Linked DNA regions of Homo sapiens. The protein of the gene in region 5 purifies or fractionates together with the protein of the main gene of each other region. This does not show direct contact. Each region holds a gene or a part of one and is shown on either strand. Other genes may lie near its edges. The genes, in order: SPTLC1, CAD, MAGED2, ATP2A2, SPRTN, NISCH and ATP1A1.

What was found.
Region 1: the proteins of SPRTN (region 5) and SPTLC1 purify together in Homo sapiens (affinity purification with mass spectrometry, with the first as the bait; one study listed by BioGRID). This does not show direct contact.
Region 2: the proteins of SPRTN (region 5) and CAD purify together in Homo sapiens (affinity purification with mass spectrometry, with the first as the bait; 2 studies listed by BioGRID). This does not show direct contact.
Region 3: the proteins of SPRTN (region 5) and MAGED2 purify together in Homo sapiens (affinity purification with mass spectrometry, with the first as the bait; 2 studies listed by BioGRID). This does not show direct contact.
Region 4: the proteins of SPRTN (region 5) and ATP2A2 purify together in Homo sapiens (affinity purification with mass spectrometry, with the first as the bait; 2 studies listed by BioGRID). This does not show direct contact.
Region 6: the proteins of SPRTN (region 5) and NISCH purify together in Homo sapiens (affinity purification with mass spectrometry; 2 studies listed by BioGRID and IntAct, with this or other methods). This does not show direct contact.
Region 7: the proteins of SPRTN (region 5) and ATP1A1 purify together in Homo sapiens (affinity purification with mass spectrometry, with the first as the bait; 2 studies listed by BioGRID). This does not show direct contact.

Annotation. Positions count from the first base shown.
Region 1 is NC_000009.12:92,108,914-92,112,413, forward strand, and holds part of SPTLC1 (serine palmitoyltransferase 1), read right to left. Parts: intron 1-3,500. UniProt on the Homo sapiens protein: Component of the serine palmitoyltransferase multisubunit enzyme (SPT) that catalyzes the initial and rate-limiting step in sphingolipid biosynthesis by condensing L-serine and activated acyl-CoA (most commonly palmitoyl-CoA) to form long-chain bases.
Region 2 is NC_000002.12:27,230,869-27,234,368, forward strand, and holds part of CAD (multifunctional protein CAD), read left to right. Parts: intron 1-599; coding exon 600-712; intron 713-1,111; coding exon 1,112-1,356; intron 1,357-1,579; coding exon 1,580-1,826; intron 1,827-2,173; coding exon 2,174-2,272; intron 2,273-2,443; coding exon 2,444-2,668; intron 2,669-2,757; coding exon 2,758-2,940; intron 2,941-3,139; coding exon 3,140-3,358; intron 3,359-3,500. UniProt on the Homo sapiens protein: Multifunctional protein that encodes the first 3 enzymatic activities of the de novo pyrimidine pathway: carbamoylphosphate synthetase (CPSase; EC 6.3.5.5), aspartate transcarbamylase (ATCase; EC 2.1.3.2) and dihydroorotase (DHOase; EC 3.5.2.3).
Region 3 is NC_000023.11:54,813,630-54,816,515, forward strand, and holds the end of MAGED2 (melanoma-associated antigen D2), read left to right. Parts: intron 1-740; exon of another isoform or gene 741-871; intron 872-1,031; coding exon 1,032-1,146; intron 1,147-1,618; coding exon 1,619-2,053; 3' UTR 2,054-2,061; intron 2,062-2,251; 3' UTR 2,252-2,386; downstream 2,387-2,886. UniProt on the Homo sapiens protein: Regulates the expression, localization to the plasma membrane and function of the sodium chloride cotransporters SLC12A1 and SLC12A3, two key components of salt reabsorption in the distal renal tubule.
Region 4 is NC_000012.12:110,329,747-110,333,246, reverse strand, and holds part of ATP2A2 (sarcoplasmic/endoplasmic reticulum calcium ATPase 2), read right to left. Parts: intron 651-3,500; coding exon 562-650; intron 67-561; coding exon 1-66.
Region 5 is NC_000001.11:231,344,793-231,348,292, reverse strand, and holds part of SPRTN (DNA-dependent metalloprotease SPRTN), read right to left. Parts: intron 497-3,500; coding exon 368-496; intron 1-367. UniProt on the Homo sapiens protein: DNA-dependent metalloendopeptidase that mediates the proteolytic cleavage of covalent DNA-protein cross-links (DPCs) during DNA synthesis, thereby playing a key role in maintaining genomic integrity.
Region 6 is NC_000003.12:52,476,104-52,479,603, reverse strand, and holds part of NISCH (nischarin), read right to left. Parts: intron 3,158-3,500; coding exon 3,005-3,157; intron 2,031-3,004; coding exon 1,962-2,030; intron 1,508-1,961; coding exon 1,322-1,507; intron 1,156-1,321; coding exon 1,027-1,155; intron 1-1,026. UniProt on the Homo sapiens protein: Acts either as the functional imidazoline-1 receptor (I1R) candidate or as a membrane-associated mediator of the I1R signaling.
Region 7 is NC_000001.11:116,393,744-116,397,243, reverse strand, and holds part of ATP1A1 (sodium/potassium-transporting ATPase subunit alpha-1), read right to left. Parts: intron 2,135-3,500; coding exon 1,959-2,134; intron 647-1,958; coding exon 510-646; intron 1-509. UniProt on the Homo sapiens protein: This is the catalytic component of the active enzyme, which catalyzes the hydrolysis of ATP coupled with the exchange of sodium and potassium ions across the plasma membrane.

The DNA.
Region 1 (3,500 bases), on a different chromosome or scaffold from region 5:
TATTATTCTAATTCTACTAACTATTCTCAAGTTCGCTGTCACTCTTATTCAAGCTTATGTCTTCACACTATTAGTACGTCTTTGTTCGCATAATACATAATGACCCACCAGACACATGCCTACCATAGAGTTGTACCTAGCCCTTGACCACTAACAGGAGCTCTCTCGGCTCTCCTAATAACATCTGGCCTAACCATAGGATTTCACTTTAATTCTACCACTCTTTTAACTTTAGGCCTACTAACCAACACACTGACTATATATCAATGATGACGTGATATTGTCCGAGAAAGTACATTCCAAGGCCACCACACAGCAATTGTCCAAAAAGGCCTCCGATACAGGATGCTCCTATTATCTCAGAAGTATCCTTCTTCGCCGGTTTTTTCTGGGCATGCTATCACTCCAGTTTAGCACCAACCCCAGAATTAGGAGGACATTGACCCCCAACAGCTATTCTTCCCCTGAACCCTTCAGAAGCACCTCTCCTAAATACGTCTATATTACTTGCATCAGGAGTTTCAGTGACTTGAGCCCATCACAGCCTAACAGAAGGTAACCAAAAACAAACAATTCAAGCACTACTTACCACAATCCTCTTAGGAGTCTATTTCACCCTTCCACAAATCTCAGAATATTTCGAGGCCCCCTTTATTATCTCTGATGGAATCTACAGCTCAACATTCTTTATAGTCACAGGCTTTCATGGACTTCATGTTACTATTGGATCAACAATTCTCACCATCTGCCTTCTCTGCCAATTAAAATTTCATTTTAGGCCGGGCATGGTGGCTCATCCCTGTAATCCCAGCACTTTGGGAGGCCGAGGTGGGCACATCACCTGAGGTCGGGAGTTCGAGACCAGCCTGACCAACATGGAGAAACCCCGTCTCTAATACAAATACAAAATTTGCTGGGCGTGGTGGCACATGCCTATAATCCCAGCTACTCGGGAAGGCTGAGGCAGGAGAATCGCTTGAACCTGGGAGGCGGAGGCTGCGGTGAGGCAAGATTGCGCCATTGCACTCCAGCCTGGGCAACAAGAGCGAAACTCTGTCTCAAAAAAAAAAAATTCATTTTACATCCAACCACCATTTTGGCTTTAAAGACGCCACTTGATATTGACACTTTGTAGATGTCGTATGACTATTCCCATGTGTCTCTATCTACTGGTGAGGGTCCTACTACTCTTTTAGTATAAGCAGTACCACTGACTTCCAATCAACTAGTTTCGACAAAGTCTGAAAAAGAGTAATTAACCTAGCACTAGCCCTAATAACTGACACTTTATTAACTCTATTATTAGTAGTAATTACATTTTGACTTGCATAACTTAATACTTACATAGAAAAATCCAGCCTTTATGAATGTAGATTTGATCCATTAACCTCTACCCACCTCCTCTTCTCCATAAAATTCTTTCTAGTAGCCATCACATTTCTCCTATTCGATTAGAAATCGTCCTATTCCTACCCCTGCCATGAGCCCTTCAAACAAATAACCTTATACTAATAATCAGTACAACCCTTCTACTAATTACCATTCTAATCCTAGGCCTAATTTATGAATGAACCCAAAAAGGATTAGATTGAGTTGAACTGGTAAATAGTTTAAATTAAATGATTTCGACTCATTAGATTATGATAGACCATATTTACCAAATGCCATTTATTTATATTAACATTATATTAGCATATACCATAGCACTGCTGGGAGTACTAATCTATCGATCCCACCTAATACCATCTCTATTATGCCTAGAAGGCATCATACTATCAATATTTATCATAAATACACTCATAATTTTAAACATGCATTTCACTCTAGGATTCATAATACCCATTATCCTCTTAGTATTTGCTGCCTGCAAAGCCGCAGTAGGCCTTGCTTTCCTAGTCTCAATCTCCAACGCATAAGGCCTAGACTATGTACAAAATCTAAATTTACTCCAATGCCAAAAATTATTATTCCAACAATTATACTGTTACAATATAACTCTCCAAAAACTCTATAGTCTGAATATAGCTACTCATAGCCTATTCATCAGCCTCATTACCCTATTATTTTTTAATCAACCAAACAATAATTCATCTAACTTCTCATTAACTTTTTCTTCTGACGCATTAACATCACCTCTTCTAATCCAAACAGCCTGACTACTACCTCTTATAATCCTAGCAGGCCAACATCACCTATCTAATGAATCACCCTTATGGAAAAAAACTCCGTATTTCCAAATTAATTTTCCTACAACTTTTTTAAATTACAGCATTTACAGCCACAGAACTAGTCATACTTTACATTCTTTTCGAAGCTACACTCATCCCTACCCTAATCATTATTACCTGCTGAGGTAACCAACCAGAATGCCTAATGCAAGCTCATACTTATTTTACACACTAGTAGGATCCCTTCCCTTACTTATTACACTCATCCACACCTGAAATAGCTCAGGTTCACTAAATATCCTAATAATAATGTTTACTAATCAAGAACTATTAAACTTCTGATCTAACAACCTTATATGACTAGCATGTATTATGGCTTTTATAGTAAAAATACCCCTATACGAACTTCACCTATGACTCCCTAAAGCCCACATAGAAGTCTCTATTGCCAGCTCAGTAGTTAGGAGGCTACGGTATCATATGACTTACCCTCATCCTCAGCCCCCTAATAGAATATATATCCTACCCCTTCCTCATACTATCCTTATGAGGAATAGTTATAACAAGCTCTATTTGTCTAAGACAAACTGATTTAAAATCACTTATCACTCATTCCTCCGTAAGCCACATAGCACTTGTTATTATAGCTATCCTTATTCAAACCCCCTGAAGCTTTTCAGGCGCAGTCACTTTACTTCAACTTCGGCAATATCAAAATTGTCTGCTGCAATGCAAAAGTCACAGTGAATACACTGCTAGAAATACCATGTCTCGTTGTGGCTAGAATAAAAACAATCACTTGTGAGTTTTGTGCACTAACCACCCTCGCCTCTTTCCTTATCACTAGAGCTAGAGGTTCTTTTCCATGTAGTTTTGTGGGTGACTTGACAATTTATGAAAATTTAACTTCTATGCTCAGAATTCTTTTTTGATTTACCATACACATAAAAATTCAATTTGAGATGGGTATGAGTAGGATTCTTTTCTACTCTGACTCTCCTTTAAGAAGACCACAGGGGAATCTTTATCCCATACTTCAGAAATAGTTGTGCTATTCTGCAGCAACTCACACAACACTTATGAATATTCAAACTCCAGTAGTTGCCCATGCTTCCCTCTAACCATCTATTTGCAAGACTGCTGTTTACTCCTAGCAAAGTATCCAAGACCATAATATGGTCTTCATTTGGGTACTGACTTTATTTCTAGATTTCCCCATATTTTGCCTACCCTAATAATTCATTCCCCTTGATTTCCTTACATTACAGAAAATGCTTTAACACACATGGTTGAGCCACCACAAATCCTTTCTGGAAAGACATAGCAACTATA
Region 2 (3,500 bases), on a different chromosome or scaffold from region 5:
ATGGGGATATATTCCAGTATCCCCATGCCCGTTTTAGGCATATTGATTCCATATTCATCAATAAGCACAAAGCCTGAGCTTATCCATGAAAATAGCAGGGAAAAGAGCTATAAGTTAAGATTTCTTTTTGTTTGTTTGTTTGTTTTGTTTTGTTTGAGACGGAGTCTCGCTTTGTTCCCCGGGCTGGAGTGCAATGGTGTGATCGCTGCTCACTGCAAGCTCCACCTCCCGGGTTCACGCCATTTTCCTGCCTCAGCCTCTGGAGTAGCTGGGGCTACAGGCGCCCGCCACCACTCCCGGCTAATTTTTTTGTATTTTTAGTAGAGACGGGGTTTCACCATGTTAGCCAGGATGGTCTCGATCTCCTGACCTCGTGATCCTTCCGCCTCAGCCTCCCAAAGTGCTGGGATTACAGGCGTGAGCCACTGCGCCCGGCCATTAAGATTTCTTAGTTGTGAAACACCATGAATCCCACCATCATGTGACTTGCCTTGAGAATCTCCCAGAGTCTTGACTATAAACCATAAGCATTATGGGCAGTGCCTTCTTCCCACCCCTTCCACCTCCACACCTTCATTCCTTCCATTCTGTTCTTCCAGGTGAAGTCATGGGCATTGGGCGTTCATTTGAGGAGGCCTTCCAGAAGGCCCTGCGCATGGTGGATGAGAACTGTGTGGGCTTTGATCACACAGTGAAACCAGTCAGCGATATGGTAAGTAGCTCCCCTCCCCTGGCAATACCCCTAAAATAGACCCTGCTTCTCATCGCCCCCAGACCATGAGCTTGTTACCAGTAACACTAGCAGCAGTCATCATTGGACATTTGCTTTGTTTCCACTTTGCTGAGAATTTTGAGATGTCTCATTAGCACGCAAGGGTGTATTACTAGACTTGTTTTTACAGATGAGGAAACTGAGACATAGGTTATAGAAATTACTCAAAGCCACATAGCCAATGAGAGGTAGACCCAGGATTGGTATCCAGGTTTTTGCAGTTACACAGCCTGTGCTCTGGTGTACAGTTTCCCCTTCCTGAGACAAGAGCAGCTACTTACGCTCAGGCTTTTAGATGGGCTGGCAGTAGCTTCCGTCTGTCTACCCCCTTTCTATCAGGAGTTGGAGACTCCAACAGATAAGCGGATTTTTGTGGTGGCAGCTGCTTTGTGGGCTGGTTATTCAGTGGACCGCCTGTATGAGCTCACACGCATCGACCGCTGGTTCCTGCACCGAATGAAGCGTATCATCGCACATGCCCAGCTGCTAGAACAACACCGTGGACAGCCTTTGCCGCCAGACCTGCTGCAACAGGCCAAGTGTCTTGGCTTCTCAGACAAACAGATTGCCCTTGCAGTTCTGAGGTCAGAGGTGGCAATGAGAGCTTCCGGCTGGGAAATGTGGGGCAGAACCTTTGTATCAGTGAGGGACCCTTGGGAGGGAGGAAGGAGAGTGTGGGAGAGCTTTAGAGGCTTCTGACCTTGGTTCCAAGGATATTTCCTCTCATCTGTGCCCTGGGGTCTCAACCCTCTATCAGTCTGTACCCTACTCTCTGGGCCTGTGTTTCAGACCCTTTTTCTATTTTAGCACAGAGCTGGCTGTTCGCAAGCTGCGTCAGGAACTGGGGATCTGTCCAGCAGTGAAACAGATTGACACAGTTGCAGCTGAGTGGCCAGCCCAGACAAATTACCTATACCTAACGTATTGGGGCACCACCCATGACCTCACCTTTCGAACACCTCATGTCCTAGTCCTTGGCTCTGGCGTCTACCGTATTGGCTCTAGCGTTGAATTTGACTGGTGTGCTGTAGGCTGCATCCAGCAGCTCCGAAAGGTCAGAGAGTTCATTTTCTTTCCACTTTCCTTGCTATTCTGTTCATCTCTAGCAATTGCTTGGCACTAATCCTGGCATTTCCTATTAATTGCCGTCCCTTACTTTGGTCATAGAGCTTTGGGGTGGGGGTCCTTTTAGGCCATCTCTCATGCCCCACACGGTATATGAATCTCTTCCCCAACACTTTGTACCTCCTTCCCTCCCAAGGCAGGGGTCCTGTACAGCTCTTTCAGAGGAAGCTGTGCTGGCAGTCTCTGAAGTAGGGGCTTTGGCTTAGTTTCTCCACGATTTTCTCCACGATTTTCCTCCCACCTGACTGCTAAGTACCCTTCCCCTCCCTCTTGCAGATGGGATATAAGACCATCATGGTGAACTATAACCCAGAGACAGTCAGCACCGACTATGACATGTGTGATCGACTCTACTTTGATGAGATCTCTTTTGAGGTGAGGGAGATGGAGGCTTCCTGGTAGCTTGAGTGGCCAGGGTCGAGTAGAACAGCTGGCTGACCTAAGATTCTTTGAAACTTGGTGGCGGCTGAGGGAAGCAGTGAGCAGGAAGGCTCAGATTCCTGCCCTCTTTTGCTGCCACCACTTGTTTCTCCCCCTGCAACGTAGGTGGTGATGGACATCTATGAGCTCGAGAACCCTGAAGGTGTGATCCTATCCATGGGTGGACAGCTGCCCAACAACATGGCCATGGCGTTGCATCGGCAGCAGTGCCGGGTGCTGGGCACCTCCCCTGAAGCCATTGACTCGGCTGAGAACCGTTTCAAGTTTTCCCGGCTCCTTGACACCATTGGTATCAGCCAGCCTCAGTGGAGGGAGCTCAGTGACCTCGAGGTGGGCTGGGACCTGGTGGGTTACCCGGAGGCTGGATGATGCTTGGGGGAAAGTGTGAACAACTCAGCTAAGCTCCCTGCCTCCTGTAGTCTGCTCGCCAATTCTGCCAGACCGTGGGGTACCCCTGTGTGGTGCGCCCCTCCTATGTGCTGAGCGGTGCTGCTATGAATGTGGCCTACACGGATGGAGACCTGGAGCGCTTCCTGAGCAGCGCAGCAGCCGTCTCCAAAGAGCATCCCGTGGTCATCTCCAAGTTCATCCAGGAGGCTAAGGTGGGAGGCTGCAGACAGTGAAGTCTCTGAGGGCATGCTGCCAGCCCTGGAGGAGACTTCCTTCTCTGGTCCAGCAGAATCATAGGCACCAGGGCTGGGAACAGTGGGCTATGTGGGGCTCGTTAAAGGAAGAGACAATCCTAGAGTAAGTGAGAGAAGAAAGTGGCCCTATGTCCCACTGTCTGTGTCCCCCCGCTAGGAGATTGACGTGGATGCCGTGGCCTCTGATGGTGTGGTGGCAGCCATCGCCATCTCTGAGCATGTGGAGAATGCAGGTGTGCATTCAGGTGATGCGACGCTGGTGACCCCCCCACAAGATATCACTGCCAAAACCCTGGAGCGGATCAAAGCCATTGTGCATGCTGTGGGCCAGGAGCTACAGGTCACAGGACCCTTCAATCTGCAGCTCATTGCCAAGGTAATAAGGCTAAAGGAAAGAACTAAAGGGCCACAGCTCTTGCATGTTCTGTGCTGGCCACAGTGCCATGAAGCCCTGCACTGTCTCCTGCCTTCATCCAAGTAGGCAGGGAAGCTGGAGGGAAAGGGCTGTAGCTAGAGCT
Region 3 (2,886 bases), on a different chromosome or scaffold from region 5:
GATGCATGTGTCTATGTGTGTATGTATTTGCATATTTGCATGTATGCAGGTGGGATTATTCCTTGGGCGGTGATGGGAAACAGGAGCAGCACATGTTTCCTGATCTGTTACATATACCTCAACATTTGTCTTGAGACCAGTTCTGCAAGGGAGGGATTATCATTACCATCATTGTACGTATGCAGAAACTGAGGTTTAGAGAGGTGAAGTCATTTGGTCAGGGTTACACAGGTAGCAAGTAGAAGAGTTATGTTTAGAACTTGGCTCCAAAGCCTTAGTTCTTTTTATTCTGCTAACTAGAGCTTCATAGAAATTAATTTCCGTAAAGAAATGACATAGAATGGTAGCTTCAGGCAACCAGGTACCATGCTGGGGAGTTGACTTGTACATCTCATTTCATTTTCATAACTACCCTGCAGCTGTCATCCCATCCCCGTTTTACAGTTGAGGGACCTGGGGCTCCGAGAAGGGAGATCTGAGCATGGCCCACAGCTGGTATGGGCCTGGAGCCCAGTCCTCTTGAATTTCTGGCCAAAGCTCACCTATCCTTGGTCCTTGGAGGACATGCAAACACTCACACAGCCACACGCATGTGCACACAGAAACACACACAAAGGGTCAGGAATTCAGCATGTGTGAAGCATGCTGCTATTGGCTGTTCTTCCTCTGTAGTCTTTCTGGTCATTTTCTGTGGTGGACCTTTCTGGGCTTGGCCAGGCTGAGGCCAAGACACTTGCAGTGGGGTGTGCTCAGAGCAGGGGGCCCAAAGAATGGCTCCTCTGTTTACAACACACCCAACAGGAATCTGGGGTCATTGTGATGAGGGCGTCAAACTTGTGGCTTCCCTATGAACAAACGTCCCCCAACACCTCTATGTGGCTTCTGGGCAAGACCAGTGGGACAGGGCTCAATATTGGAAGAAAGACTGTAGTAATTAGTGGATGATGTTGCCATCTGGAGCCTGTCCAGTCTATGCATGGGTAGGCCATGAATGGTCTTAGAAATAAAGGCTTTGAACCTCTCTTTCCAAGGTACCTGGACTATGCCAGAGTCCCCAATAGCAATCCCCCTGAATATGAGTTCTTCTGGGGCCTGCGCTCTTACTATGAGACCAGCAAGATGAAAGTCCTCAAGTTTGCCTGCAAGGTAATTGGAGAGCTCCTTGAGCTTGGCAAGTCAAGAGCATGGGGTGCCCCTGGCTGGGGCAGGCTGTGTGCAGAGCAGCCTGCAGTTCAAATCTGAATGTTTTGGTGCTTCTGTTAATTGTCAAAACACTGTAACAGGCACTTTATCTGAATCATTTAAGCCTTACAACCTGATATGTCATTGCCCTGTTACAGATGAGAAAACCGAGGCCCAGAAAGGTTGGTAGGTGACATGTCCAAAGTCATGGGGCTAGGAAGTGTCAGAGCAGGGATGGAATATTAGGTGCATAATTACTGGTAATACTGTATTATTACTATTATCTTTTTATACTAAGCATGTAGCATAGTGCCTAGCATAAAGGTAGATGCTTAATCCTCTTATGCTCCTTCTGATGGTTATTTACATAGTAATACTGTATTATTACTATGGCTTAATCCCTCTATGCTCCTTCTGATGGTTATTTTTGTTTCAGGTACAAAAGAAGGATCCCAAGGAATGGGCAGCTCAGTACCGAGAGGCGATGGAAGCGGATTTGAAGGCTGCAGCTGAGGCTGCAGCTGAAGCCAAGGCTAGGGCCGAGATTAGAGCTCGAATGGGCATTGGGCTCGGCTCGGAGAATGCTGCCGGGCCCTGCAACTGGGACGAAGCTGATATCGGACCCTGGGCCAAAGCCCGGATCCAGGCGGGAGCAGAAGCTAAAGCCAAAGCCCAAGAGAGTGGCAGTGCCAGCACTGGTGCCAGTACCAGTACCAATAACAGTGCCAGTGCCAGTGCCAGCACCAGTGGTGGCTTCAGTGCTGGTGCCAGCCTGACCGCCACTCTCACATTTGGGCTCTTCGCTGGCCTTGGTGGAGCTGGTGCCAGCACCAGTGGCAGCTCTGGTGCCTGTGGTTTCTCCTACAAGTGAGATTTTAGGTATCTGCCTTGGTTTCAGTGGGGACATCTGGGGCTTATGGGGCTGGGATGAGGAGCTGGATGATTCTAGGAAGGCCCAAGTTGGAGAATGATGTGGAGAGTGTGCCAAGACACTGCTTTTGGCATTTTATTCCTTTCTGTTTGCTGGATGTCAATTGACCCTTTTATTTTCTCTTACTTGTGTTTTCAGATATTGTTAATCCTGCCAGTCTTTCTCTTCAAGCCAGGGTGCATCCTCAGAAACCTACTCAACACAGCACTCTAGGCAGCCACTATCAATCAATTGAAGTTGACACTCTGCATTAAATCTATTTGCCATTTCTGAGTTTATTGCTTTTTTTGGCGGGCTGTCACATTTTGGTATCACATTTAAAAATCAGTGAGTTGGGAAAGTTTCCACCTCAGTCTGTGTTTAGTTTGAGGTGATATTGTTGGATTCCCAGGAGCGAGATTAACACACCTTTCTGGGATAGATTGGGCCTCACGTCTAATTGTTGGATTCCCAGGAGCGAGATTAACACACCTTTCTGGGATAGATTGGGCATCACGTCTAGCCTTCAGGGTGGTGGGATTTTAGTGGGGTGGAGTTCAAGAGATTGTAGTTACAGAGGACACACTTTGAAGGAGAGGCTTGAGGTCGGCAAGTCTAGAGCAGAAAGTGTAAGTAGAGGAGACTGGACATCAAATATAGAATCCCTTTTTGAGAAATTTGAATGAGGAGAGAGAGGGGTACAGAGCTAAATGGAGATACAGGAACAAGGGAGCATTTTCTTGGGGAAGGAGAGAGAGACTTGAGTAGGGAGGAGTCAACGGAGAGGGAGAAGT
Region 4 (3,500 bases), on a different chromosome or scaffold from region 5:
CAAATTGTTGCTAATTCTACCAGACCATCATACTGGTGACAATTCACTGGTTTATCATCTTTATGCCTGCCCAAAGAGAAAACACTCTTAGAGCAGGGTATGGTCGCCACTATTGATTCCTCCCGCCCCCTGCCCCCCCGCAATTGTTTAATAATGAAAACAGAATTTCTGGGACAACATACTGGAAAAAATTCCAAACAATTTGATGCCAGAGCCAATATTAGACAAAAACAAAAGAGAGAATGCATCTCTGGTATCAGAAATCAATCAGTAAAAAGACCAGAAATTCTTAATTCAATTCTTCCACCACTGGCTACAGTGAATAACAAACACAAATCCCTCTTGAAAGTTTGGAGCCCAGAAGATGCAAAAAGATGACTGGATTATAACCTTTGGTTCATCTTTCAAAGTTTTTGTTTTAAAAACATTTACTACTTTAGTAATAAGTGTTGACTTGAGCCACATTCAGAAAGCTGTCTTAACTTTGTAGACATGCTGCAAATCAATACAAATACTAAACTGCCACACCAGATCCTTTAAATGAGGAGGAGGGTTACTCACACTTCTCCAATAGGTGCATAAGTTGATCCAGTTATGGTAAACTCATTAAGGGAACAAGTATCACCTTCCACTCTGTCCAGAATGAACATCTGTAGGGGGAGAGCGCATCAGAGTATTTAAAAGGGATTTTTAAAAAATGCTACACAAATAAACTACCTTTGTTAGCTTAGGACAAAGGCAAACAACCTCTTTCATTTACGAAAACAACTTTAATAAAACTCACTGAGGCTCACTCAGCATCAGCAGTACTGTCCCTTACCCTAACTAGCTTAATTATATTAGACTGCTTCGCCCATCACACCCCCGACCAATCGAACAGTATGAAAAACAGCATCACTGAGGTGCTGAATGAATGAGCAGCAGTGGCACCAAAGACACAACAACCCACACAAAATCCAAGTTATGAGGACTCCCGGTCAGCAAAAGGTCAGTTCCAGAGACAAGTTACTCTTTAGATTGCTCAGAATCCCAAATTTCAAATGGCTGGCTGTGAGAGTGGTATTAGGTAGTCCTGCCTTAGAGCTAAGCACAAAAGCTTGGGAAGAATAAACTCACATTTCAGAGTTGCATAAACATTTCCCGAGTAAAATAAGACAAACTGCTTCTCTGCTCCTTCCCACTTATTTTTATTGTGGCAATAGCTCATGTTCTATGAAGCTGCATAACTATATGTATACAGTAAGGAGCCCGCAGAGCTGAATGAATTGATGTTCCCTAGACAATACAGATGGAAGCATGCTTAGGAAAGGATTAATTTTATTTTTTAAAGCGACATAAGCTATTTTCTTAAAGATAATTTTTCCACTGCTTGATTTGCATTCACAAATTATAATTCAGAAGCCCAGTTTGGAAAAGTAAGATTTAGGCTTGTGTTTTCATTGCAAATGAAAACTTGTAAAACCTCCTCTAAAAAGAAAAAATTACAGAAAGTGATGTCAAAACTATATTTTCTCGTGCTTTCTCTGAAATATGAGCAATTAATAATCTGATCAAATCATTCTCTAAGGGGAATTTAAAAAATGTAAAACTCAAGTTAAACAGGCCACGTTGAGCTGGGCACGGTGGCTCACGCCTATAATCCCAGCACTGAGAGGCCAAGGTGAGTAGATCATGAGGACAGGAGCTCAAGATCAGCCTGGCAAAGATGGTGAAACCCGTCTCTACTAAAAATATAACAAATTAGCCGGGCGTGGTGGTGGGCACCTGTAATCCCAGCTACTCAGGAGGTTGAGGGAGAGAAGTGCTTGAACCCGGGAGGCAGAGGTTGCAGTGGGCTGAGATTGCGCCACTGCACTCTAGCCTGGGCGACAGAGCAAAACTCCGTAATAACAGCAACAACAAAGCTATGTTGTGTTTTAAAAACACATCTTTTCAGAGCAATTCATCTCACATTCAATAAGGAAATTAGTTAATCTTTATTTTAAAATAACTTTTTTTTTTTTTTGAGGTGGAGTTTCACTCTGTCGCCTAGGCTGGGTGGACTGCAATGGCACGACTCGGCTCACTGCAACCTCCGCCTCCCGGGTTCAAGTGATTCTCCTGCCTCAGCCTCCCAAAGAAATTATAGGCGCCTGCCAACATGCCCAGCTAATTTTTGTAATATTAGTAGAGACGAGGTTTCACCATGTTAGTCAGGCTGGTCTCGAACTCCTGACCTCAGGTGATCCGCCCGCCTCGGCCTCCCAAAGTGCTGAAATAACAGGCGTGAACCACTGTGCCCAGCCAAAAATGTGAAATTCTTTGAGTCTATACCAAAGCCCAAAATATTCTAAAAGACATTCAGAATCTGAATCTACATTAGCTAAATCTAAATGTACTTAGACATTTTTGACTGTGAGCAAGTCAACCATTTAGGATATGCAGGATGAAAATCTTCCTAAGTCAAGGGCAGTTATGCAATACCACTGCAAGAAGCCTCCTGCAGAATACCAATTAGCACCAGCTTCCTGTTGTGAGGTAGAGCTTCACTCAGAACAGGCAGGCTTTTTCTTTATTATAAGAAAACATTTTAAGCCAAGCCATTCAAGGGAGAAAAGAACAAAAAAAAATTATAGTGAACTGGGAAACTGAAATTTTAAAAATTACAATTTTACACATGGCTTTACACATGGCTTACTTTCACAGACATAAAGACTATTCTGAGGAATTAAAGCTTTCAGGCTAAGTGAGACACAAAATCGTAAATAAGAAAATTCCCTTTCTCTTCCTGAAACAACCAGTATGACAAAACTGACTTTTAGCCAATTCATCCAACCTTTTGGTTCCAAAAAATAAGAACTTAAGTAGCTCAAACACCTTAATATCCTGGAGAAACCTAAGACAAACCTAGAAGCTTTCCACTTTGAAAGTTGGAACACCCCAGTTCTGTCAATTCTAAATGTGGGTTTGGACTTCACAAGGAGCTTGCGGGGGAGGGAGAACCTGTATCTAAAAAATCATCATGAGCTTAAAATTGGCAAGATAAAAATTCACAGGGCTTAACTGATTATAAAACAATTTCCGATGTTAAAAATAATTATCTAAAACCTGACAAAAAGGCCAAGATAACTACACCCTTTCAATATCATACAGAAGCATTATTTAACAAGCCCATTCTAGGAAAATGTAACACTGTGTTACTAAATAAATGCTCATGTTATATGAGGTTTCCCTGTAAGACATTAGTTTTGTAATCTAACCTAGCAATCCCTATTCTAATATTCTAATATTGAACACTTCCTCAAATACAGATTCCCTTGCTAATTAATGAGCCGAATAAAATATGTGACAAATGTCTACTCTGTATGAGTCATGTGTACCTTTTGGAATAGACTTGTACCAAGTTGTTTAAGCAAAACCTAAGGAAAGTGAATTATACAAAATAATCCAGCTGTATAATTATTGCATTATTTATTCAGTTGTTACTTTTCTAACAGCAGGTTTAAATTATTTATTTTATC
Region 5 (3,500 bases):
GAAGAATTCTGATGAGGGAATGACATCTGCAATGGTAGCAGGATACAGGATGGACTAAAAAAGACAATAATAAGGAAACAAAGTTAAGAGATCATGATGATTCCAGAAGTGACGTACTGCAGGCCTGAATTACCTGTGTGTAAAATGTTGACTCAGAAGAGGTCAGAGGCCTCAGGGATATCACTGGCTCTGCTGCCATTCCACCATGTAGTCCCAGACAAGCCAATTTGCTTCTCTAGGCCTCTCGTTCGCTGTGGAAAATCCTCAAAGATACTTGTTTCTACCTAGTTCTCTACTTTTAATTAAATCTCAGGAGTTATTGAATAAACAACTACTAAACATCATAAATAGATATGGCTTTCTATACCGTTATATTGGCTCCAGTCAGGCTGTTGATGCGATGCATATGTTTACAAAATTCTGGACCATGCCCTTCTCGGTCTTTGTCGTTATTAGTGACAAATAAATAGGCATGTATCATTTCATGCAGGAGGGTCTGGAACATAAAATATTCAAATTAGTTTTAGAGTCTGTATGACACTTTGGAAAATATAAATTTTCTTATTCTATCTGGTGTCTAACCTTTTCTGTATCACAGGCTTCCTTCAGAACTGATAAAACTCATTCTAGGCCGGGTGCAGTGGCTCACACCTGTAATCCCAACACTTTGGGAGGCAAAGGTGGGAGGGTCACTTGAGCCCAGGGGTTGGAGACCAACCTGGGCAACATGGCGAAACCCTGTCTCTACAAAAAAATACAAAAATTAGCCAGGTGTGGTGGTGCATGCCTGTAATCCCAGCTACACTCAGGAGGCTGAGGTGGGAGGATCCTCTGAGCCTGGGGAGGTTGACGCTGCAGTGAGCTGTGATTGTGCCACTGCACTCCAGCCTGGGGGACAGAATGAGACACTGTCTCACAAAAACAAAACAACAACAACAAAAAACCCACCTCATTCTATAAAAATTATATAAGCACTCATTCACAAAATATTGCATATGAGTTGAGCATCCCAACTCTGAAAATCCAAAATGCTCCAAAATCAGAAACTCTTGAGCAATGACATGACACTCAAAAGGAAATGCTCATTGGAGCATTGCGGATTTTCAGATTTGGGATGCTCCACCTGTAAGAATAACACAAATATTCCAAAATCCAAATAAATCTGAAATCCAAGACACTTCTAGTCCCAGGCATTTCAGAGAAGGGGTACTCAAATTTGTGTAACATCTAAAGCTCTGAAAATCACAGGTTAAGAACTCCCTGTTCTAGGAAGACCTTTTTGACTATATATCAAAATCCAGAAAAATCAATGAATTCAACTACATAAAAACTTTAAAATTCTTTTTTTTTTGAGACAGGGTCTTACTCTGTTGCCCAGGCTGGAGTGCAGTGGCTCAATCTCTCCTCACTGCAAGCTCTGCCTCCTCGGTCCAAGTGATTCTCGTGCCTCAGCCTCCTGAGTAGCTGGCACTACAGGTGTGCACCACCATGCCTGGCTAATTTTTGTATTTTAGTAGAGATGGGGTTTGGCCATATTGGCAAGGATGGTCTTAAACTCCTGACCTCAAGCAATCTGCCCGCCTCAGCCTCCCAAAGTGCTGGGATTATAGGCGTCAGCCACTGCACCCAGACAAAACTTTAAAATTCTATAGGAAAAAAACACCAAGTAAAAAGACAAACTCAGAAAAATATATGTATAACTCTTATCACAGGCTATTCCTAATATACAAGGAGCTCCTAATGTCAACAGGGAATGACAACCCAATTTCAAAATGGGCAAAGACCATGGAGTTCACAGAAGAAGTATAAATGACCCACAAACAAATGAAAAAACGCCCAACTTCCGGATCACGAGGTCAGGACATTGAGACCATCCTGCTCAACATGGTGAAACCCTGTCTCTACTAAAATACAAAAAAAAAAAAAAAAAATTTTGGCTGGGCATAGTTGCGCCCGCCTGTAGTCCGAGCAGTATACTCAGGAGGCTGAGGCAGGGGAATTGCTTGAACCTGGGAGGCAGAGGTTGCAGTGAGCCGAGAATGCACCACTGCACTCCAGCCTGATGACAGACCAAGACTCCATCTCAAAAAAAAAAAAAAAAAAAAAAAAGAAAAGAAAAGAAAAAATGCCCAACTTTATTTATAAAAAGAGAAATGCGAATTAATACTACACTAGGATGGTCAGGCGTGGTGGCTCATGTCTGTAATCCCAGCACTTTGGGAGGCTGAGGTGGGAGGATTGCTCGAGGCCAGGAGTTCAAAACCAGCCTGGTCAACATAGTGAGACCTTGTCTCTACAAAAAAATAAAAATAAAAATAAAACAATTAGCTTGTGCATCTGTAGTCCTAGCTACTCAGGAGGCGGAGATGGGAGGATCACTTGAGGCCATGAATTCAAGGTTGCAGTGAGCTATGATTACCTCCAGCCTGGACAACCCAGCAAGACCCTGTCTCAAAAAACAAAAAACCCCCACAAAAACCCAACACTACACTAGGATGTTATTTATTGCTTATCAAGATTGGTAAAACTCCTAAAGTTTGACACCATTAGTAAAGCTAAGGGAAAATAAACATTCCTATATACTGCTGGTGGGAGTGCAATTCTCCTATGGAAAATTTGGTAGCATCTAACAAAATTACAAATGCATTTGTCTTCTGAGAGAGCAATACCTAGACTAGCATGCAAGGTCATATGCACAAGGTGTATTCACTGTGACACTGCTTATAACAGCAAAAGATTAGAAATAACTCCAGTGTTTTATACATCCATATAATGGAATTCTATGCAGCCACAAAAAAGAATGAGAAGGATCTACATGAAATGGTTTGGAGAAAGCTATAGAGCGTATTAATGAAAAAGACAGGGGGCTGGGCACAGTGGCTCATGCCTGTAATCCCCGCACTTTGGGAGGCCGAGGCAGGTGGATCACCTGAGGTCAGGAGTTCAAGACCAGCCTGGCCCACATGGTAAAACCCCGTCTCTACTAAACACACAAAAATTAGCCAGGCATGGTGGCGGGCGCCTGTAATCCCAGCTACTCGGGAGGCTGAGGCAGAGGCAGGAGAATCACCTGAACCTGGGAGGCAGAGGTTGCAGTGAGCCGAGATCATGCCATTGCACTCCAGCCTGGGCAACAAAAAAAAAAGAAAGAAACAAAGAAAGAAAGAAAGAAAAGAAAAGAAAAGAAAAAGAAAAAGACAAAGTACAGAAGAATGTACATAGTATTTTGTGTAAGAAAAATTTTGTATGGTGGGGAGGAGGAATAAAAATGAATAGAAATATTTGCAAAACAGAAAAATGAAAAGAAACTAACAGCTCCTACAGCAAGTAAGGAGTTCAAGATAGAGGAGGACACTGAACAAGACATCTTTGTGTATAGCTTTCTACAGCTTTTGGGTTTTGATTCAGAAATCATGAAAACTTGAAACAAACACTAAAACCTACTGCTCATTCCACACCAAAGATGCACAAGTTTCTGTGCAAAATTAACAAAAGCATTT
Region 6 (3,500 bases), on a different chromosome or scaffold from region 5:
GTGGGCCAGGCCACGTGAGGACACCATAGGCTGAGGGAGGCTCAGCCTGCTCAGAGGCGGCTCTTCACTACTCATGGAAGTGACCTGGGAATGCCTTGGAGGGGTCCAGGGAGGTCTCACATCTGTCTCTGGAGTCCCTCACCAAGAACAGGAGGCAGCAAGCTCTTGGGCAGCTGGGACTAGGGTAAGGGGGCAACTTGAACTAAGCCCCCAGTTAGAGGTGGGAGGCAGACTCTCAAAAGAGCGATGGGAGAGCCTCCTGGGTAGGGGAACCAGCGGCAGGAGAGGGCAGGGCCCCCGCCTGCAAATGTGGGAGGGAGTGGTGGCTGGCAGGCAGTGGGGGGTTGGGTAGGGTGGTTGAATGAGGGAAGGTCCCAAGGGCCTGGACAGGAGCTGACACTCTGTGGCCTGGGAGCTTCCCAAAGTCTGCAGCCCAGGAGGGGAGGAGATGGCATCTCATGGTCTTGTGACTGTGTGGAGGAAGGGGCACTTGCGGCCACAAAGAGGGAGGTGGGACACAAATAGACTTCCAGGTATTTTCTGACCTGGGATTTTGGGAGAACAGAAGGTCCAAGGACCAATCAGAGCATCACGGGGACTGCTCCAGGCCCAGGCGATGGGTGAACCTGGTTAAGGGTGTCTGGTCAGCATCGTGGCAGGTGCACAGACACCGCGAGGGGCAGCAGACACCAGGCTGGGCTACACTGGCAAAGGCAAACCCTTTGGGTTTACAGTCAGGCACTATGGCCACAGGTTGTCCAGGAGATATGAATATTTTAAGGATCTTATTTCTGACCCTTTCCTAGAATAAACAATGTTATCCCAGACAGTAGGGGCAGGAGATGCAAGGGAGCTTTTTCCTGGGGAGATAGTGGACTTCCCAGAACTGAAAAGCCCCTAAGGGACAGGACCTCTTTCTGAAGCAGGCAAGGGTAGAACAATGGACATATATCCCCCTACCGCCCATGCAGACTTGACTGCATCCCGAAGGTCTCCCTGGGCTCTTCTGACTGTGCTGGGGCTCACCTCTGAGGCCCTCTCTCCGAACTGAGCCAGCACCTTGGTCCGGTAGTCGGGGATGATGCTCAGAGGGTTGTTCAGCAGAGACACGTGCTCCAGACACGGGAGGCTGCCTATGCTCCGGACCTCCTCCATCTGCAAGGTATGAGTTCCATCCCCTTTGGTCCCTTCTCTTAACACTTCAGCAACACGCCAACACGTTTCATGGTCTCTTTTAAATGAAAGGAATCTTAACATTCTTCTTTAACATGATACACACCAAGGCACAGAAATCCCAAAACTGTGAGGTCCTTGGGCTCACCTGTTCGATCCTGTTGTCCCGGAGATCCAGGTTGACCAGTGAGTAGAGCTTGTGCAGGCCACTCAGACTCTCTAGGAGGTTGCCTGCCAGGTTTAAGGTCTTGATGTTCCCCAGCTTGGTGTGAAGCCCTTCCAAGGAGGAGAGCTTGTTGTAGGACAGGTCCAGATGCACAAGGTTATACAGGTGCTGCAGCGGCGTGGAGAACAGCGTAAAGTGGCTCAGGTCAAGTCTCCAAAGATAGGGGCCTGACACTAATGGCAGGATGGGCCTTCCAACCCAAACTACCCAGTTCTGCAAGTCACTCTGACAGTTATTTTAGGAAGGGAAGTCCCTCTTCTCTGCCGCACATGCCACAGCACAGTGGCACCCCTGCAGACAGTTGGGGTGGGCGTTGAAAACATGGCTGTCCACCTTCAGGACGGAGGTGCATCATCATGCCTGGTTTGTATTTACTCATGCTTCCTAATTCTTTGGAACTAGAGCAACAATCACTCAGTGCATTGCTGGGATCCTAAAGCGAAGACAGCAACCCCTGCCCTTACAACCCCTGGCCAATTCCCAAGGCTGCGTCAGTCTCCTGAAATCTCAGGGCGGGGCCTTGGGAGTGTGTGCGGGCAGCACTGGTCTCCAAAGGCACTACCTGCAGATTGTCCACAACCAGCAATCCATTGTGACTCAGGTCCAGGAACTCAATCTTTGGGATCAGTTTCTTGTGAAAGAAAAGAACACCCGATGTTACTGTAGGGGGCTGGACCCCAAACACGGTCCCCGACACAGTGGACGGGCACCCCAGGACGCTTCCTCCCGACCATGGACTCCCACGGGCCGTCCCTGCAGGACCACTGGTGGGACATCTCCCGCTGCCCAGCCAGTAGCACATCCAAAGGCACACACAGGGCCCCCAGTGCTGGGCACTACTCAGTTTTCATGGAACACTTGGCTTGTGAAAATGACACACAGCAAGGTCCCAGACAGAGAAGAGAGTCTGTTCTTCTTCAACCCTGCCCACACTCCCTGAGCAGCGCAAACACGGGAACGACACTCTTACTGCCCAAATGCCCTCTGGGTGTCATTCTTTCATGGGCACATCTGTCATCTAAGGAGTGATTTTTCTGCTCCACTCTTTGGAGCAAATGTCATCATTTAGTGTGTTATAGTTTACCAAATTTACATGAAATTATTATGTTTTATTTGGTTCTAAGTACTACCTCACCAATTTTAAATGATCCCATTTTTTTTTCTTCTTTTGAGACGGAGTCTCACTCTGTCGCCCAGGCTGGAATGCAGTGGCCCTATCTCAGCTCACTGCAACATCCGCCTCCCGGGTTCAAGCGATTCTCCTGCCTAAGCCTCCCAAAGTAGCTGGGATTACAGGTGTGCACCACCACACCCAGCTAATTTTTGTATTTTTAGTAGAGATGGGGTTTCACCACATTGGTCAGGCTGGTCTCGAACTCCTGACCTCAAGTGATCCTCCCGCCTCGGCCTCCCAAAGTGCTGGGATTACAGGTGTGACCCACCACGCCCAGCCCCCATTTTGTAATTAACTTAAAATGGCAGGCAATGCACAGAGCACTAGATATAGGTTTTCCGTGGTCCTTCCTAAAAAAGCTGAGTTAAATACTCAAACTCAGGGTTTGGTGGGGCCAGAGAAACCCCTGGCACCTGCTGCTGAGAGCATACCACAGACTCGTCGATCTCGGAGACGCTGTTGTGGCTCAGGTCAAGCGTGGTCAATGCCTGCCAAGTGGGGATGACGGCAGTCACAGGGCCTTCTAGGGTTGTGCCTTCAGGCTCCCACTCATCAAATTCTGAGGCTTCAGGAACAAGGACTTCCTGCATAAAAACATCTGTGTGGAGCACCACACTCGGGCCCTCACGCAACACTCACTGGGAACACAGTCGTTGCAGAATTTAAGGAAGGGCTGGAGCATATTTAGCATGTGGAAGTAAACTTGCATTAAAGCATGCCTTTGGTTCCTATGTCTTTAAACGATTGTGAAATCGTTCAAAGCTGAACAATTTACCACATAACAGCCACTTAGAATTAAGTCCTGGCCCTGCTTTAGGAGCAATGCTTTTCAAGCCCAAAGGGCCTTTGCCCTGGTGACCTGGTGATGCCTTTTCTAGCCTTTTCTCTTTTTTGAGATGGAGTCTCGCTCTGTCACCCAGGCTGGAG
Region 7 (3,500 bases), about 110 Mb from region 5:
AACCTTAAAACAAAACCAATTTGCTATTATCTGTTTTACTTCATTGCCAAATGTCTCCTGTGTTTGCCTGAATGGCCTAAGTAATTGTCCCTTCCTTATTTTATTTTGTTAGTGTGGACCTGGAAAGTGTCAAGATGCTAGGTGCTAGGCAGTAGAGCTCAGTGGTTAACAGCATGAAATCAGAAGCTAGACTGCTGAATTTACTGCATGATTTCACCAGTTCTGAGGTACTTCAAAAGCCTCTTGAATCCTTACCTTCCCTGCTCTGCAAATAATAGGTCACCATATCAAGCTCTTAGAACAGTAAATACCATCTAAGTGCTAATTATTATGACTTGCTCTTACTTAAAACCCTTCTTAGGAATGACAAGGTTGCTTTCTGGCAGTGCAGGTACATTTCCTACTCAGAGCAAGCCTAGATGCAAACCATTATAGAACCACGCTGAAGATTTTAAACCATCACTATTTGCTTGTTCACAGCAGACTGTGATTTGAGCTTCCTGCCTTACCTGGGGTTCACCTGGCTGACTGGGATGTTGAGGCGGGCAGCAATGTCTTCCACGGTCTCATTGCCTTCTGAGATGATGCCCACACCTTTGGCAATAGCTTTAGCTGTGATTGGATGGTCTCCTGTGACCATGATGACCTGTAATAAACAAGACAATGTGTTGAATGCAACTGCCAAGTAAATGACCTTAAAGTCTTATATCCAGTAGGCAAGAGTAAATACTAAGGATGATTCGGCTTAGACTATCAAAAGGAAAGGAATGCAAATATAAAACTAATAAACATCGATTAGCCAAAAATATAAACATATATATCCACAGAAAGGAAACACAAAGGCAATACTCAGGTTTTATCTTGGTATACAATCACTAGCATACACAATGTCTATTTTTCCTTCTACAGAGTTACATAAAAATACTTGAAAATTACTAAAACCAGCAAAAAAAAAAAAAAAAAAAAAGGATAAAAATCTGATGCTGGTGGGACTGTGAAGACACCACATGCTACTGGCTAGCATTCTCAAATTGGCACAACTTGGAGGAAAAGCAACATGTGACAAGAATTCAAAATTGTTATTTTTTGATGCAGTGATTATACTTAGAATATACTTTAAAAAGAAGCAGTCGGAATGGTGAGGAAATAACTTCTACAAAGCTTTTCAGGGCAGTATTAATCCTGAGAGTAGGCCGGGTGTGGTGGCTCACGCTTGTAACCCCAGCACTTTGGGAGGCTGAGGTGGGCAGATCACCTGAGGTCAGGAGTTTGAGACCAGCCTGGCCAACGTGGCGAAACCCTATCTTTACTTAAAAATACAAAAATTAGCTGGGCGTGGTAGCGGGTGCCTGTAATTCCAGCTACTTGGGAGGCTGGGGCAGGAGAATTGCTTGAACCTGGGAGGCGGAGGTTGCAGTGAGCCGAGATCGTGCTATGACATTCCAGCCTGGGCAATAGAGCAAGACTCTGTCTCAAAAAATAAATAAAATAAAATCCTGAGAGTAAAAAACAGAAACCAAATACCCAGCAACAGGATATTAGTGCACTTGAGTAATATTCAGCTACTTAAAAAAAGACAGATACACAGAGGACACCAAACACTCATTAACAAACAGTTAACTGAAAACACAGAAGATATGCCATTCATTGCATAAGGTACATTAACTTAGAATAATGCAAGTATTTTAAAACTTCAAGTCTTTTGCTGTTTTTACTTTGCTTACATTTCTTTTTTACACAATTGCTTTCCAAAAAATTTTTAATTCCTCGTGTGTTTACACCATCATATTTTAATACTATCTGGTCTTTTCTGGGTGGAAGTAAAGCTTTGGAGATGAGAAATTAATACTCCAGGTGAGATAGAACAGCTGGCCATCTGGACCTCAAAAGGCAACATTCACTGAGTAGGGTGTCCCAAGGCACTAAGAGATGAAGCCAAGGAGGCGCCTGGGCACTACCTTAATTCCAGCACTTCGACATTTGCCCACGGCATCAGGAACGGCCGCCCGTGGAGGGTCAATCATGGAGATGAGCCCAACAAAGCACAGATTATCGATAGGGAAATTCACATCGTCAGTGTCAAACTGGAACCCTTCAGGAAACTGTTCATCTGGCAGAAAGAGGTGGCAGAAACCTGCGAGGAGGACAGGAGCCTTTGAAAATTTCAGTGACGCTGGGCAGTAAGAAGGACAACAGCAGCCTATTCAGCCCGCCTACCTTTCTCTGGAGTGTTTACTTTGGAAAATTTTTAAAGTCTATATTTTTATAACAGAGTGAGGGTTTTATTTAACATTTATGAACGATAGAGTCACTGAAAGAAAAAAAGCATTTGAAAGACAGAATCCATCACACCAGGCCTCAAAGGAATTGGAAATTGTTTAATGTGGAGAAGACTGAATTGATAACACTAATTTTGAGCACCAGGATATTAGGGTTCTAGACTTGCCCACTGATGATGACATTAAGTTATTTGGATTTGGCAAATCATGGAATTATCTGCCTCAGCTGCCTTCTCTGGAAACATCAAGGCCATACCTCTGCTCTCTTGTTCATTTAACTGAAACATATTACTGAGCACCAATGTGGGACATCATGCTAGCTACTTTTGAGGATAAGTACAGATCAGATGCATTCTGCCCAGGGGGTTTATCATCTAGTATAGTAAATACAAGAATCAAGATAATGTAAGACATTCTTTTCAATGTTGTATGACGTTACAATGATCTTTAACGTGCCATGTGGACTCAAAAGAAGAGAGACTGCTTCCACTTTGGGGTGGTGGAAGTAGGGAAGTGAAAAACACTTAAAGAGAAGATAGCAATCCTTCGGTTGGATAGACACATACGAAAGATACCATGAGTTAGATTTACCCAAGTTAAGAAGAATAGGAAGCATTATATAAATAATGAATGTAGTATCTGTCAACCTACAAAGTATTATAAATGCCACTTTCCCAAATACATTAGACAATGGGTAAAGTGAACTTCTCAGCCTCAGTAGCTGTCAGGGTAGAAAAAAATAGGTAGCATCTTAGACTAAAAGTTTACCGTTAGTCTAGTTTCTAAGCTGAGCACATAAGTGCTCATGTAAATTCACACCCATTCCAAGGCAGTCAGGAAATAGTATGTCTAACTTAGACACACTAAGAATTAATTAACTTTAATTAGGCTTATAAGTCATGTCCACAGCAACAAAGGTTAGATAAGAAAGATATTCTTCCACCATTTTTTTTTTTAAACAAACAGAACTGACTAGCATGAGACCAAAGGTCTAAGTACAAGTCAGAAGCAAACCATCAGGACGTTGTTTCTCACAGCCCAATACGCTGAACATTTCTTCAGCACTTATTGTTTTCAAAATAATAGGGGGCAAATAAACAAATAGGAGGATTGCCCCTAAAAGATGTAGAGGAAGGTCAACAAGACATAGAGGTTCATAGGATCACTTGTTAACTGTCTACCAGACTAGGTTACTGGATAAAAACGTGCCCAGGCACTCTG